3 separate regions of the Homo sapiens genome follow, and regions 1 and 3 are each reported to be linked to region 2. Evidence: microRNA targets listed by miRTarBase, many of them from high-throughput screens and not tested one by one. Region 2 holds a microRNA gene; each other region holds the end of a gene's coding sequence.
The links. Region 2 holds the annotated microRNA hsa-miR-6509-3p (UUCCACUGCCACUACCUAAUUU, at 2,023-2,044, opposite strand). A microRNA usually pairs through its seed, bases 2 to 8, with sites in the 3' UTR of a target mRNA and lowers its output. Matches are read on the target gene's strand: a 7mer-m8 pairs with bases 2 to 8, a 7mer-A1 pairs with bases 2 to 7 and ends in A, and an 8mer does both.

Region 1 (4,243 bases), not on the chromosome of region 2:
TTTAAAATTACAAGTGTTTTACTCCCCAGTAAGAGTTGAACTTGTGTGTTCTAGACACCTAAGTCATATAAGAGGTTTGTGAAGTGTCAAGTACAGTGAGAAATGGAGACTTCTTGGTCTGCAGTCCCCTTGACACAGAACTGGAGATAAAGTAATTATACAGCTGAATTACCATTTCTTAGATGTCACGGTTCAAGATACTTTTGTGTGTAAAAAATTTGTACACATACAATTCACATATTTATCAATTTAAAGTGTACAATTCAATGGCTGGGTGCAATGGCTCATGTCTGTAATCCCAGTACTTTGTGAAACCCAGGAAGGTGGGTCACTTAAACCCAGAGGTTTGATATCAACATGGGCAACACAGTGAATCCTTGTCTCTACAAAAAAAAAACAAAAACAAAACGAACAATTAGCTGGCTGTGGTAGTGTGCACATGCAGTCCCAGCTACTTGGGAAGCTGAGGTGGGAGGATGGCATGAGTCCAGGAGGTTGAGGCTGCAAAGGGTGGAGATTGCAATCCTGTCTTCCAAAAAAAAAGTTTTTAATATACAATTCAGTGGTTCATCGTATATTCATAGAATTTTTCAACAACTGCAACAACAAGATTTAGAGTATTTTATCACCCACCAAAAGAAACACTGTACCCTTAGCCATTCCTTATCCTGCATTTTAGGCAAACACTAACTTATTTTTTATCTCTATCAATTTTCCTATTAAGAGCATTTCATATGAAGGGACATATTGTTATATGAAGGATCTTTGTTGTTTGGCATCTATACTTAGTATAATGTTTTAAAAAGTCTCATTAATGGTATAGCATGCATCAAGACTTTATTATTTTTATTGCCAAATAATATTCTAAAACATATTGTTTATTCATTTATCAGTGATGAACTGTAGTTTTCTCTCCAGTTTTGGTTAAGATGTTATCAACATGCATGTATTAATTTTGTATAGACCTATTGCCATTTGTGTCTGGTATATTACTAGAGGTAGAATTGCTGGGTCATATTGTAACTCTGTTTAAACTTTAATAAACTGGCAGATTGTTTCAAAGTGCCTGAATAATTTTTGATACACACAAGCAAAGTATGAAGATTCCAAATTCTCCATATCCTTGCCAACACTTTTAATTACTTATCTTTTTGATAATAGCCATGTTAGTGAGGGTGAAGTGGTATCTCATTGTGGTTTTTACTTAAATTTTCCTGTAATAATGTTGAACTTAATGATGCAGAGCATTTTTTCATTTGTTCTTATTGGACATTACATTTGCTCATTTGTCCTCATTGGACATTTACATATTCCTTAGAGAAATGCCTGTTCAGATCTTATGCACATTTTTGGATTGGGTCATTTTTTTTTTATCATTGAGCTGTAAGCTTTCTTTATAAATTTCTTACACAAGTCATTTACCATGTATGTAATTTGCAACTATATCCTCCAAAGTCTGGTTTCTCTTCAGACTTTAGTGCTGGTGTTTGGATGTACAAAAATTTTGATTTCAGTGAAGTCCAATTTATCAATTTTAATTTGATTGCTTCTGCTTTTGGTGTCATATCTAAAAACCTTGCAAAATTCAGGGTTAGAAAGAAAGCTATACCCATATTCTTCCTGCTGAGAGTTTTATAGTTCTTGATCTTACATTTAGTTTTTTTTTAATCTATTTTGAGTCCATTTTTATATATGACTTGAGGTAAGGGGTTCAATTTTATTCTTTTGAATACTGATAATCAGTTTGTCCACTGGTATTTGTTAAAGATATTGTTTTTTCTCCATTGTATAGTTTTGCATTCTTGTCAAATATCAATTGACTCTATGTTTGGCTATATTTCTAGATTTTACAAACTATTAAAATTGAGTATATGCCTAGCTATATGCCTATAGCTAATGCATGCTAAGCTTAATACCTAGGTGATGGGCAGATAGGTGCAGCAAACCACCATGGCACACGTTTACTATGTAACAAACCTGCACATGTATCCTGGAACTTAAAATAACATAAAATTGAAAAAAGAAACAGTGAAAGAAAGAAGAATTTCAAAAATATCACTAAGGCAACGAATGTAATTTATCTTCTCAATTTCAAATATTGAAATTAACACTTTAGCTAGAAATGTCATTAAATTTATAAAGGGTAAAGAAAGCAAAATCTTTAATATATTTATTAAATTAATGCAAGGCTGAATCAAGTAAAAGTATTTGCCTTCAACTATGCTTTCCGTTGATAAACATTTATTATGCCATATCCTTGGTGAAGCTCTTAGTCTTTTATATACATAGCATAACAATTAATTGATAAATTAAAATTTGTGGAAGATAAAGACAAAAATAATGCAATGATATCAAATTCCAAGTAAGCATTTTTTATTTTTTGGCATAAAATTAAACTTTTGATTACAAATAGTGATTATATATTATGAACATTAGTGATTTTTAAGCATAATTAATTGATGTTTTATGTAATTATTTGTACAGTTGACTAAAAATTTTATAAAAATGATAATTATTTTCTAGATTTCTAATTGTTATATCCTCTAAATATGATCTGTTCACCTTCAACATATAACATAGAACTTTCTCCTTGAAATAAAAGAGTCGATTGATTGATTTATTAAAGACAGTACCCAAATCTTCCACTACAGGTTATATAAGAATATATGTTGAAGAAAGGCAGGCAAGTTATGCCGTGATTTTCTAGATATGCTTAATGAAAATTTTGTAGACATTTAATAGGGACGCACGTCACACTTAAAATTCATTCTCTAACTCCTGAAACATTGAGCAAGCAGAAGAGTTTGTTTTTATTAAAAAAGGAAATCATTACCTTTCTCATAACACACTACTCTCCTACGGTGGCTCCCTGATTTGTTTGGTATATGGAAATTTGTGAATTTGACTCTTCCTTACACCTATCAAATTCCATCTACACTGTATGCATTACCAGGATTCAGCATATTGTTAATCATTAATTAAGGTTAACGATAAAATAATTTGATACTATGAATAGAACATATTTAAAATTAGGTAGTATCCTTGTGTCAGAAAAGTGACAGGAAGAGGGTATAGTCAGCAGGGAGAGACAAAGGAAAAATAGAAGACTATAACTCACAAGTTAATAATAATCATGCCAAAATCTAGGCTTTATCAGTAGGCTTATCGCAGGTAGAGAAATAGAAAATTTGGAAACAGGATGGGAGACGTGTTTTTGTTAAACTCCTTTTGTCTGGAATTAATAGGACTACACTACTCAGGATTTTGCCAAACTTAAAAATATATATATTTCCTCTTTTTCTTGACCTATTCTCTTTTTTTCTTCTTTCCTATCTTACCAAATTTTTGACAGGAAAACAAACAACATTGTATGACCAAAAATATAGCCGTTGTCACACAGACCAGCAAGAACCCAATTACATCCAAAGAGTGGTACTGGAACCAGGTGAGGTCATGGGCTGCAACCCGAAGGTGCTTGGCTCCTTTGTGGCGCATGACAAACTCGATCCAGAAGACTGCTCGATCCAGGGGCTTTACAGGTTGATCATGGTGAATTCTTGATAACCTCATAGCATTCTCTTTATAACTAGAAGACAAATAAATAGGCAGAAATTAGACAATTTTTGTTTTTATTTTCATTGAAGATAAATATGTGATACACTTTTGCTCTACAAGTTTAAGGCCATAGTTACGTGGAGAAAATATAATTCTTGCATGAACTTTGTTAGTTGTATAGGATTTTAAGAGTTACAAAAAGGAAGATATGGATGAAATATATGCTTAACACAGTATGATCAAATGTAGACATAAAAAAGTAGAGTAAGCCAGTTGTAAATATAGATGTTTAGCATAATTTTTCCAAAAATAATTTTGATACTGTGTGAGCTATACTGTAGGATGGTTCCAATACCAAGATGGTACATAACCTAATACTGTGGGATAAAAATCATTTAAGACATACATAAACATATCCTCTAGTGTCTGGCTAGTTCATATGACAGACAAAGGAAATTGGCAGTCAGCATTAGTGAGTCATTTTACAGTTCTAAGATGTAGGCATTGTGATAATTACTCTGTGGCACACATCTGTATGTTTGTGACGAAAAGGACAGTGTCTGTATCTGTAACATGAAGACTGAACAAAAATACTCTGGTGATTTAAGAAGTGGCATATCCAAGTACATGAACTTTGATGTTTCAATTGAAACATCTCCCTAGAATTAGAGCTCTAAATCAACTTGCC
Region 2 (4,243 bases):
CACTAGAGCTATTTCATCTGGTGCAATACTTGGCTATGTGGAGGTCTGGAATCCGGCTGCCTGGGTTTGCATCGTGACTCACCAATCACTGTCTTCCTCACCTGTGTGTACCTCTGTTTCTTCAACCACTACTATTATTATCACCAGCTGGGGCTTCTGCTTTAACTGGCTGTTTCTGAAGGTCAAATACCTCTCTCTAATCTGCCTTCCTCTTTAAACCGTCAGAGAGGTGCATGCTTCTACTGAGGAATGCATCCAACCTGTGGTTACCAATCTTTCCATACATGAGATGCTCCTTCCAATGCACAAAACCTTCCCAAGACTTTACCACAGTGGTTGCGTTTTTATTTATCCTGACTACACATATCTGGATGTAGAGCTGGCAGAGCTGTGCAGTTCCCCACCTCTAGGCAGAGCCACAGGCTCGGAGGCTCAGAACTCCTAGAGGACTTCTGAGGCCATGGGGACCTTACTCATAAAGCTCTGAAGCAAGGCTGGACACGGTGGCTCACGCCTGTAATCCCAGCACTTTGGGAGGCCAAGGCAGGTGGATCACTTGATGTCAGGAGTTGGGACTAGCCTGGCCAATACGATGAAATCCCATCTCTACTAAAAATACAAAAAAAATTAGCCAGGCATGGTGGCATGCACTTGTAATCCCAGCTACTTGGGAGGCTGAGGCAGGAGAGTCTCTTGAACCCAGGAGGCAGAAGTTGCTTTGAGCCAAGATTGTGCCACGGCACTCTAGCCTGGGCGACAGAGCGAGACTCCATCTCTAAAAATAAAAATAAAGCTCTCAAGCAAGAGCAGTGTGTGCCAGGAGGCTCTTCCGCAATTCTCCTTCAGCAGGCACAGAGGACTGCAGGCAAGGCAAGATCAGAGGGAACTGTGGGGCTGAGAGCACAGAGGGCAAAGAAAAGGAAAGGGCCGTCACACACACTCACAGTTCCGAGTCCCCCAGGCGGTCCATGTTGGAGACATAAGGAGGCAATTTGTGTTGGACCAAGGCCTCTTCCTCTTCTGGCTGTTGCTCCTCTTTCTTCAGTCGGTGGATTTCAGCTTGCAATGCAAAAAGCTATACAGGGGTGGGACTGAGTTAGCCAATGATCTCACCTAACCTTCCCTCTGCGGAGGAAGATTTCTAGACACATCGCATCCAAGCCCACTGGTCTGAGTGCCACTCGCCTCAGCGTCAAGGGGCCCATCTCACTCTGCTCACTGCAGACTGGGAAAAGTGACTGCTGTCACTGGACAACAATGAGGTGAGAAAACCAAAAACCATTAGAAATCCAAAACCCATTTTCTTTTTAATCATTTGACTTGCTTCCTCCTAGATTCACTGAGAAAAATAGCTCCACCCAACCTGTTTTGCTTTTTAGAATCTACAAAATCAGGCTTTAGAACTCTCAAAGCCTGACTCTGGAATGGAAAAAAAAAAAAAACCTGTTAATGAACTACAGCGTTTTTAACCTTTTGCCTGAAGAAAATTACATATACACACACCCCAAATCCCAAGAATCTTAAACCCCATAACCTAAACAGCCTATAATCTTCCTTTTCCTAACAATATCACCTAAGGAGATCTTAATTTCAGGAAAGAGAAATGTTCCTCAGGCAACATGTACAGGCAAATGTGGGTCCCCTGGCTCTATTGTTTTATCAAACTAGAGAAGCATATAGCTGAGTAGGAACAACTAAATTATATATGGGTTATAAACTATATATATGTGTGTGTGTGTATATATAGTTTATATATATACATATAGTTTACATATATATGTGTATATATATATACACACATATATAGCTATACGTGGAAAGACAAAACAGACACATGAAAACAGGTTAGTTATAAGGTGGCATGGATGCATATAGTCTTTTTCTCCTTAAAAGTTAATTACTGTTACTATATTGTTCATGCTACATATCTGACTTAAAATATGAATCTCGCCTCTGGTTTTCAGAGACTGTTACTCTCCAAATCCCCAATACTGACTTTCTGGTGACTCATTTCCATCTGAGAAATTAGGTAGTGGCAGTGGAAACCTGATTAATATAGTGTTCCACTGCCACTACCTAATTTCACACACAAAAAGCAGAAGTACTTCCTCAGGAGCAAGCCTGTTCAGAACAAACCTTCTGACGCAGAACTTCATTTTCTTCTTGAACCTGGTTAGTCCTCTGACACTCCGCATCAAAGTTCAGGATCACAGGGACTGGTGCACGAAGTTAAAGAATAAGCCAGCCCCTGAAATGTTTAAACGTCCTTCCCAAACCCTTGACACACCAGTAAAACACATGAGACACAGGGACACAGAGAACAGAGTATAGGAGCGGTGCTGTGGGCTCTTGCGGGCTTAATGAAATAGTCGCTCCCTACAGTCTTGTCTCTAAGACTTTCTCTAGGTCTGGCCTCATTTCATTCGGACAGATTCACAGACGCATGACCATCTGCCTGGCCAGCCCACAGAGGGGACATAAATCCAAACCTAAGCATTTTCTCTCAAATACCAGAAGCAAAGAGCTAGCATCCAGTGGACTTCACAGCCAGTCTGAGCTTTAGTGAGGTCACTACATTCAGCTAAAAGCAGCCCTGGAGGCCAGTGGCTCTGCAGTAATACAGCCAATGAGGCAGAAAAGACCAGTCAGTTGGCTTCGCCTCCCCAGGTTGAGCCTCTCCCTGGCAAAGGTTTGGACTGAGAAGAGAAAGCTTTCTGCAGATTGCGTGGCCACCCCAAGAACAACGACAGTCTATAGCTTGGGATACTGGTCCTTCTCCACTGCCTCAGGCAGCTTCAGTTAGGAGGAGCACAGAGCAGACAGGGCCTCAGAACTGGAGAGGGGACTAGAGCCCATATGTGTGTAAGCTAGTTTGAGAAGCACTGAAAAGATCTTGAGTGACAGTTTCGATTTCACTGGAGGGCCCACAAAGTTAACTGGAGAGCCCTCAGGATGAAGAGAGGGAACAACGGGGAAGAAACAAGGCAGTTCTGGCAAGGGTGGAATTCACACTCATCTGGGGCACAGAAAGGGTGAAGGCAGGAAAGGTGCCCTTCCCACCTCCACCAGAAAGTGTTCCTCCCAGAGGCCAAAACGCCTGCCCATGGGTGGGCCTCTAAACACCCAAGTTTATCAGTGCCTCACCAGCCAGCCCCATTCAAGCCAGACTCCCTTCTCCTCCTCTAAATTTCCAGCCTAGGGAGCATGAACAATGGCCTTGGGAGCTCTGGCTTGTACACTTGGTAGGCTGTAAATTATTTACCTGCATTCTCATTCATTCCCCCTCTCCAATACCCGCATATATATTCTTAAAGCTACTGTGTTCTCTGGCAACTTGAGGAACACTGAAGTTACTATTAGAGACAATAACCCAAACACTAACACAGACAGAAGTTCCAACCCAAGAAGTCTTCTCATCTGTACCTAATCCCAGCAAAGGTATATCCCCGGGAACACGTTTCATGCACAGAGAGGGTACTCTCAAGGCTGCCCGGTTTCTCCAAGCAGCAGCTGCCTTCCAACCCCAGTGCCTGCTGACAAAGCCAGTACTAGCACCCCACTGCTGCCACTGTCACTGCCCACACGTCAGCTAATACTTCAGCAGCACAGTGTCAGAACTAAGATTTATGATTCCCTGGCTTACTGACAAAAACAACCACAATTTGTCCAGCCCCCTCATGTGACCCATAAAAATGGTCCCTGGGCATTTTTGTAGAAGAAATGCCTGTATGGAGACCAGCGGGCTACTGATCCTGAGGTCTGGGTGCCTCAGGCTGGGCCTTCAGCCCCAGGCAACTGAAAGGATATGCATGCACTGAAACAGGACGCTCAGGAAGTTGTGCAGGGACACAATGAAGGTGTCAGCCCACTGTCGAGAAAAGTAGGTAGCAAAGGTGGGGTTGGTGTCCGGGGATGGCAGGAAGGGCAGGACAAACCAATCCTTCCACTCAGCCTGGTTCTGGAGTTCCGTGGCCTGCTTTGCAAAGAACTCCTGAGCCTTGTCATTTCTGTTTGTCTGCCAAGACACAAGGAGGTAGCAAGGAGGGAGGAGAGACAGAAATCCAGAGGTAAGACTCTTCATCATTGCACAGCAGACAACCTTTGACTATCAGCCTGCCAGGTAAGTGGCAAAATAAAATTCCATAATATAAAGGAAATCATCACTCTTTTCTCAAGGAACTTGTCATTTCAAAGCTGGTTTAAGCTGAAGTTCTAATGATAAATCCCATCCTAAAAATTAATC
Region 3 (4,199 bases), not on the chromosome of region 2:
AGATATAACAAAATAGGTGGATTGTTCCCTGATTCTGGGGCTGGGGTCTTCTACCCCTGGCCCATGTGGGCTCTGTTGCTACCCACTAGTTCAGTCTAGCCATGGGAAATTGGAGGCCAATAAAAAGAAAAAAACCCAAAACTCATTCTGTTCTTGGGAAGGTGGGAATTGGAAGCTGCCTGCAGAGAGGGGGAGTGGCACAGCGGCACTGATTGTCTCTCCTTGACCTTGCAGAATGTGTATGCGCCTGAAGATGATCCTGAGATGAAGGTGGAGCGTTACAAGCGCACCTTTGACCAAAATGAGGAGCTAGGGCTCAATGACATGAAGACAGAGGGCTATGAGGCAGGCCTGGCTCCGCAACGGTAGCAGTGGGTGGCTCAAGGGCCAGCCTCCAGCGCTGCTCTTTCTGTAGGTTATTTATTAGTATTGGATGAAGGCGAAGGCTGGGAGTGTCTTTCCCACCAGCCCTTGCCCATGGTGGGGAGGACATCTGGTCTGAGTCAGAGATCTGTGCACACTTTCTAAACAGCTTGTGATGCAAGTGTGAGCCTATTGTGTTACTTGACCTTATTTTGGAAGTTTTGAATTGGCCTAGGAGGAAACCCAGAAATGAACCAGGGGTATGTCATCACTTTTTTCATATCAAGTCCTCACCCTCCTTCCACATAATGCTCTATCCTCTAAGGTTGGAACTCTGAAGTTGGAGAAGGTGGAATAAAGTTACACCTGGAGTTTGTTGTTGGTTTTGAGTATATAAAATACTGACTTTGAACAGGAAAGGAGTCTCCTGAGGGGAGACCGAGTCCAGCACAAGTGAAGGAGTTACCATTGAAATGATGACTTTCAAACAGCACTGGCCTCTGTATTGACCCTATCCTTGTTTGATATCATGCTGTTAGAATTCAGCCTCCTAAAGAAAATTTTCCCGTGTATCTACTGTAATTTGGGGATTGCAGCTGGCATTTAATTCATTCCTTCAGCAGATGCTTGCTTATCTACTTTATGCCAAGCACACCACAGAACAGAGGACAAAATAAATCTCTTTCATGGAACTTGAAGTCTAGTGGGGAAAAATGACAATAAACAGATCAGGAAAACAGTACATCAGATGGTGATTAGTGTCATGGAGGAATGTAAAGCAGGGAATGGGGCTGGGTTGTGCAAGGAAATGGGGAGTAGGGAAGATCTTCTGAACAAGAAGGTGATAATTTGACATTTGGGCAAAGCTGAGGAGGAGGTCAGGGAGTGAGCTGTGTGGGTATCTGGGGGAAGAGATTTCCTGGCAGAGGGAACTGCAAATGCTAGAGCTGTGAGGTTAGAGCCAGTGGGGGTACCTGATCAGTTAGCCCTACTCTCAGTTAGAAATGTTGAAACACATTCATCCAGAGAGAAAGGAGGCTCTCTGCAGTTCTTCTGAAAGTTAAGGACCAGTGAACACTCTGCTGCTTGGGCCCTGGACTTCCCAGCCAGTGTTCTTTGCACTGTAGTCTCCTGCCTCTCATAAACAAAAGGTGACTCCTGTGGTGCAGACTGCAGGGTATTTGTTCAATAAAGACCAGTTCATTGATTAAGATGTTATCACAAACCTTATTGCTTTGTGTTGCAAACTTTTTTTTTTTTTTTTTTTGGTAGAGACAGAGTCTCGCGCTGTTGCCCAGGCTGGAGTGCAGTGGTGTGATCTTGGCTTATTGCAACCTTTGCCTCCCGGGTTTAAGCAATTCTGCCTCAGCCTCCCGAGTAGCGGGGACTACAGGCGCACGCCGCCACACCCAGCTAATTTCTTTTGTATTTTAGTAGAGACGGGGTTTCACCGTGTTGCCCAGGCTGGTCTCGAACTCCTGAGCTCAGGCAATCCGCCAGCCTTGGCCTCCCAAAGTGCTAGGATTACAGGCGTGAGCTACCGCGTCCGGCTGTGTTGCAAACTTAACTCTGAAGAATGAGTTAGAGATGATTTAGCAATCAGACATCTACTCTCGTTGCTCTGTTAAACTACTCTCAAAGGTCACAAGTGATTTTCCACTTGGAAAGTGTTATCTATTTCTGTCACATTTGATAGTGGACCATCTCTTCTTAACCCTTCTTTTGGCTCTCGAGATACTGTACCCTTGGTTTTCCCTTCACTTTGAATATTTCTTATTTGGACACTTTGCCTCCTCCCCTCTTACTAAATTTGTTTCTGAGAGTTCTGCTTTCAGACATCTCTCCATATCAGATTCTTTGGCATCTTACTATCATGTGGGACTAACTTCCATACCTGTATCTCTAATTTCTGTAAGTGAGGGCGAGAGTAAGGTGTTTGGAGACTCAGGTTAGCAAATGACTCATTCAAACTATAAAGCTTCAGTACTTTGGGCAAACTTCTCACAGGCAACTATTCTACCCTAAGAGATTATCTCTAGGTATGTTTCCAGCTGACTTGGGAATCTAAGTTTACCAGACAACCCTCTGATCTATCATTTGGTCTCTTAAGTAGACTTCCCCATAGTGTAGGTGTGCTCTGTTAAGATAAACTGCAGTATCAGGTTCATTTTCCATTGTGAAGGAAAAAAAATGGCACTCTGGCTTATTACTGAATCTCTTGTGAGTTTGGTTGGTGTGAGGCAATCTCCCAGAATCCACCCAGTTCCTAGGAAATGATGACCTGAGTTTCTGAACTTGAAGACTGAGGACCAGGTGCCAGACTGGGATAACCCAGCTAAGGTACTTCCTGCCCTTTGATGACAAGGCATTCTTCAGTTTCATACCCTTCTCTTGAATTATCTTTCAGCTCCTTTCTCATTTCATAAAGTGTGTCAGGATGGGAGCTTACATATAGTTAACTGAGTCTTGCTCCACAGCACCCAGCATATGACACATGGTTAATAAAATCTGTTAAAATCCTCCATCATAGATTAAACCCTATTAGGACACTAGGGATAACATCTATAGGTAAAAAGATAGGGAAAGGGTCTCGCTTTAAGGCCAGGGTAGGTGAGTCAAAGTGCCAGGAACATGTGGATTCAGTTTCACAGCCATGAGTAACATTTAAGTGGAAAAGGTTTGTGATTGTGTTAAAAAAGGAAAGTGGTTCATGCATGAGGGCACGCCTCCTACTTTCATGGGTCAAGTATGTGAAATGCAGCCATGTTCGGTCATTAGACGTGTGGACGAACATACAGGTAGGTACTGAATGTACATCTGTGTCATGATGAGTGGAGGAGGGGAGGTGAGTGTTGGGAGCAAGTATGAAGGGCAGTTGACTTGGCCAACTGAAAACTTTAATGATGGCAACACTTTCATTCTAACATCAGTATATTTCCTTCTTTGTACACCTGTGGTATGTGCCTGATGCACACTGCAGAAAATGGTGTCTCTGCTTACATTTAGGGCAGTGGTGGCTAAGACTACTTGGCTTTATTCCTATTAAAAAATGTTTTTTACACACTTCTTTTTAAGGCAAATGGCAGTGTTTCCAACTGTGGAGAGAAAAAGCTGCTTATTTTGTGCGTTCACCTCAGTTTAGTATTGGCACTTCCAATGCTTGTTTTCCTAGTCTGTAAAATGGGGATAATTAGGATAAACAAAATTATCCCCATTTTACAGGTGACAAAACAGCCTCAGAGAGGTTACTTCCAGAAGGAAGCAGAGCTTTTTTTTTTTTTTTTTTTTTTTTTTTTTTTTTTTGAGACGGAGTCTCACTCTGTTGCCCAGACTGGAGTGCAGTGGCGTGATCTTGGCTCACCACAACCTCTGCCTCCCAGGTTCAAGCGATTCTCTTGCCTCAGCCTTCTGAGTAGCTGGGACTACAGGTGCACGCCACCATGCCTGGCTAATTTTTTTTTTTTTTTTTTTTTTGGAGACAGTCTTGCTCTGTCACCCAGGATGGAGTGCAGTGGTGCGATCTTGGCTCACTGCAGCCTTGCCTCCTGGGTTCAAGCAATTCTCCTGCCTCAGCCTCCTGAGTAGCTGGGATTACAGACGCCCACCACTGCACCCAGCTAATTTTTGTATTTTTAGTAGAGATGGGGTTTCACCATGTTGGTCAGGCTGGTCTCAAACCCCTGACCTCGTGATCCACCTGCCTTGGCCTCCCAAAGTGCAGGGATTACAGGCGTGAGCCACCGTGCCTGGCCAGAAGTAGAGCTTCTAAGAGGCAGGTGTCAAACCCATGCCAGTCAGACTCTGAAACCTGAGGTCTGAATATTTTAAGCTCAGCT

Region 1: miRTarBase lists UGT2A2 as a target of hsa-miR-6509-3p. Seed matches in the 3' UTR shown: 7mer-A1 at 2,641-2,647.
Region 3: the mRNA of ZPR1 is a reported target of hsa-miR-6509-3p. Seed matches in the 3' UTR shown: 7mer-A1 at 3,031-3,037.

What each region holds. Positions count from the first base shown.
Region 1 is chr4:69,586,066-69,590,308 of GRCh38, forward strand. UGT2A2 (UDP glucuronosyltransferase family 2 member A2) reads right to left here. Exons shown (of 6, transcript NM_001105677.2): 6 at 2,352-3,586. The coding sequence ends at 3,307. It overlaps UGT2A1 (UDP glucuronosyltransferase family 2 member A1 complex locus), which reads right to left. Exons shown (of 7, transcript NM_001252275.3): 7 at 2,352-3,586. The coding sequence ends at 3,307. Among named protein-coding and RNA genes, the nearest start is that of UGT2A2, 51 kb to the right of the region's middle.
Region 2 is chr7:135,204,984-135,209,226 of GRCh38, forward strand. MIR6509 (microRNA 6509) reads right to left here and starts at 2,095; the gene lies at 2,011-2,095. It overlaps WDR91 (WD repeat domain 91), which reads right to left. Exons shown (of 15, transcript NM_014149.4): 3 at 3,808-4,015; 4 at 2,137-2,219; 5 at 945-1,075. RefSeq lists a silencer at 1,927-2,086 and an enhancer at 3,876-4,243.
Region 3 is chr11:116,775,095-116,779,293 of GRCh38, reverse strand. It overlaps ZPR1 (ZPR1 zinc finger), which reads left to right. Exons shown (of 14, transcript NM_003904.5): 14 at 235-4,199. The coding sequence ends at 369. Among named protein-coding and RNA genes, the nearest start is that of BUD13-DT, 3.7 kb to the right of the region's middle.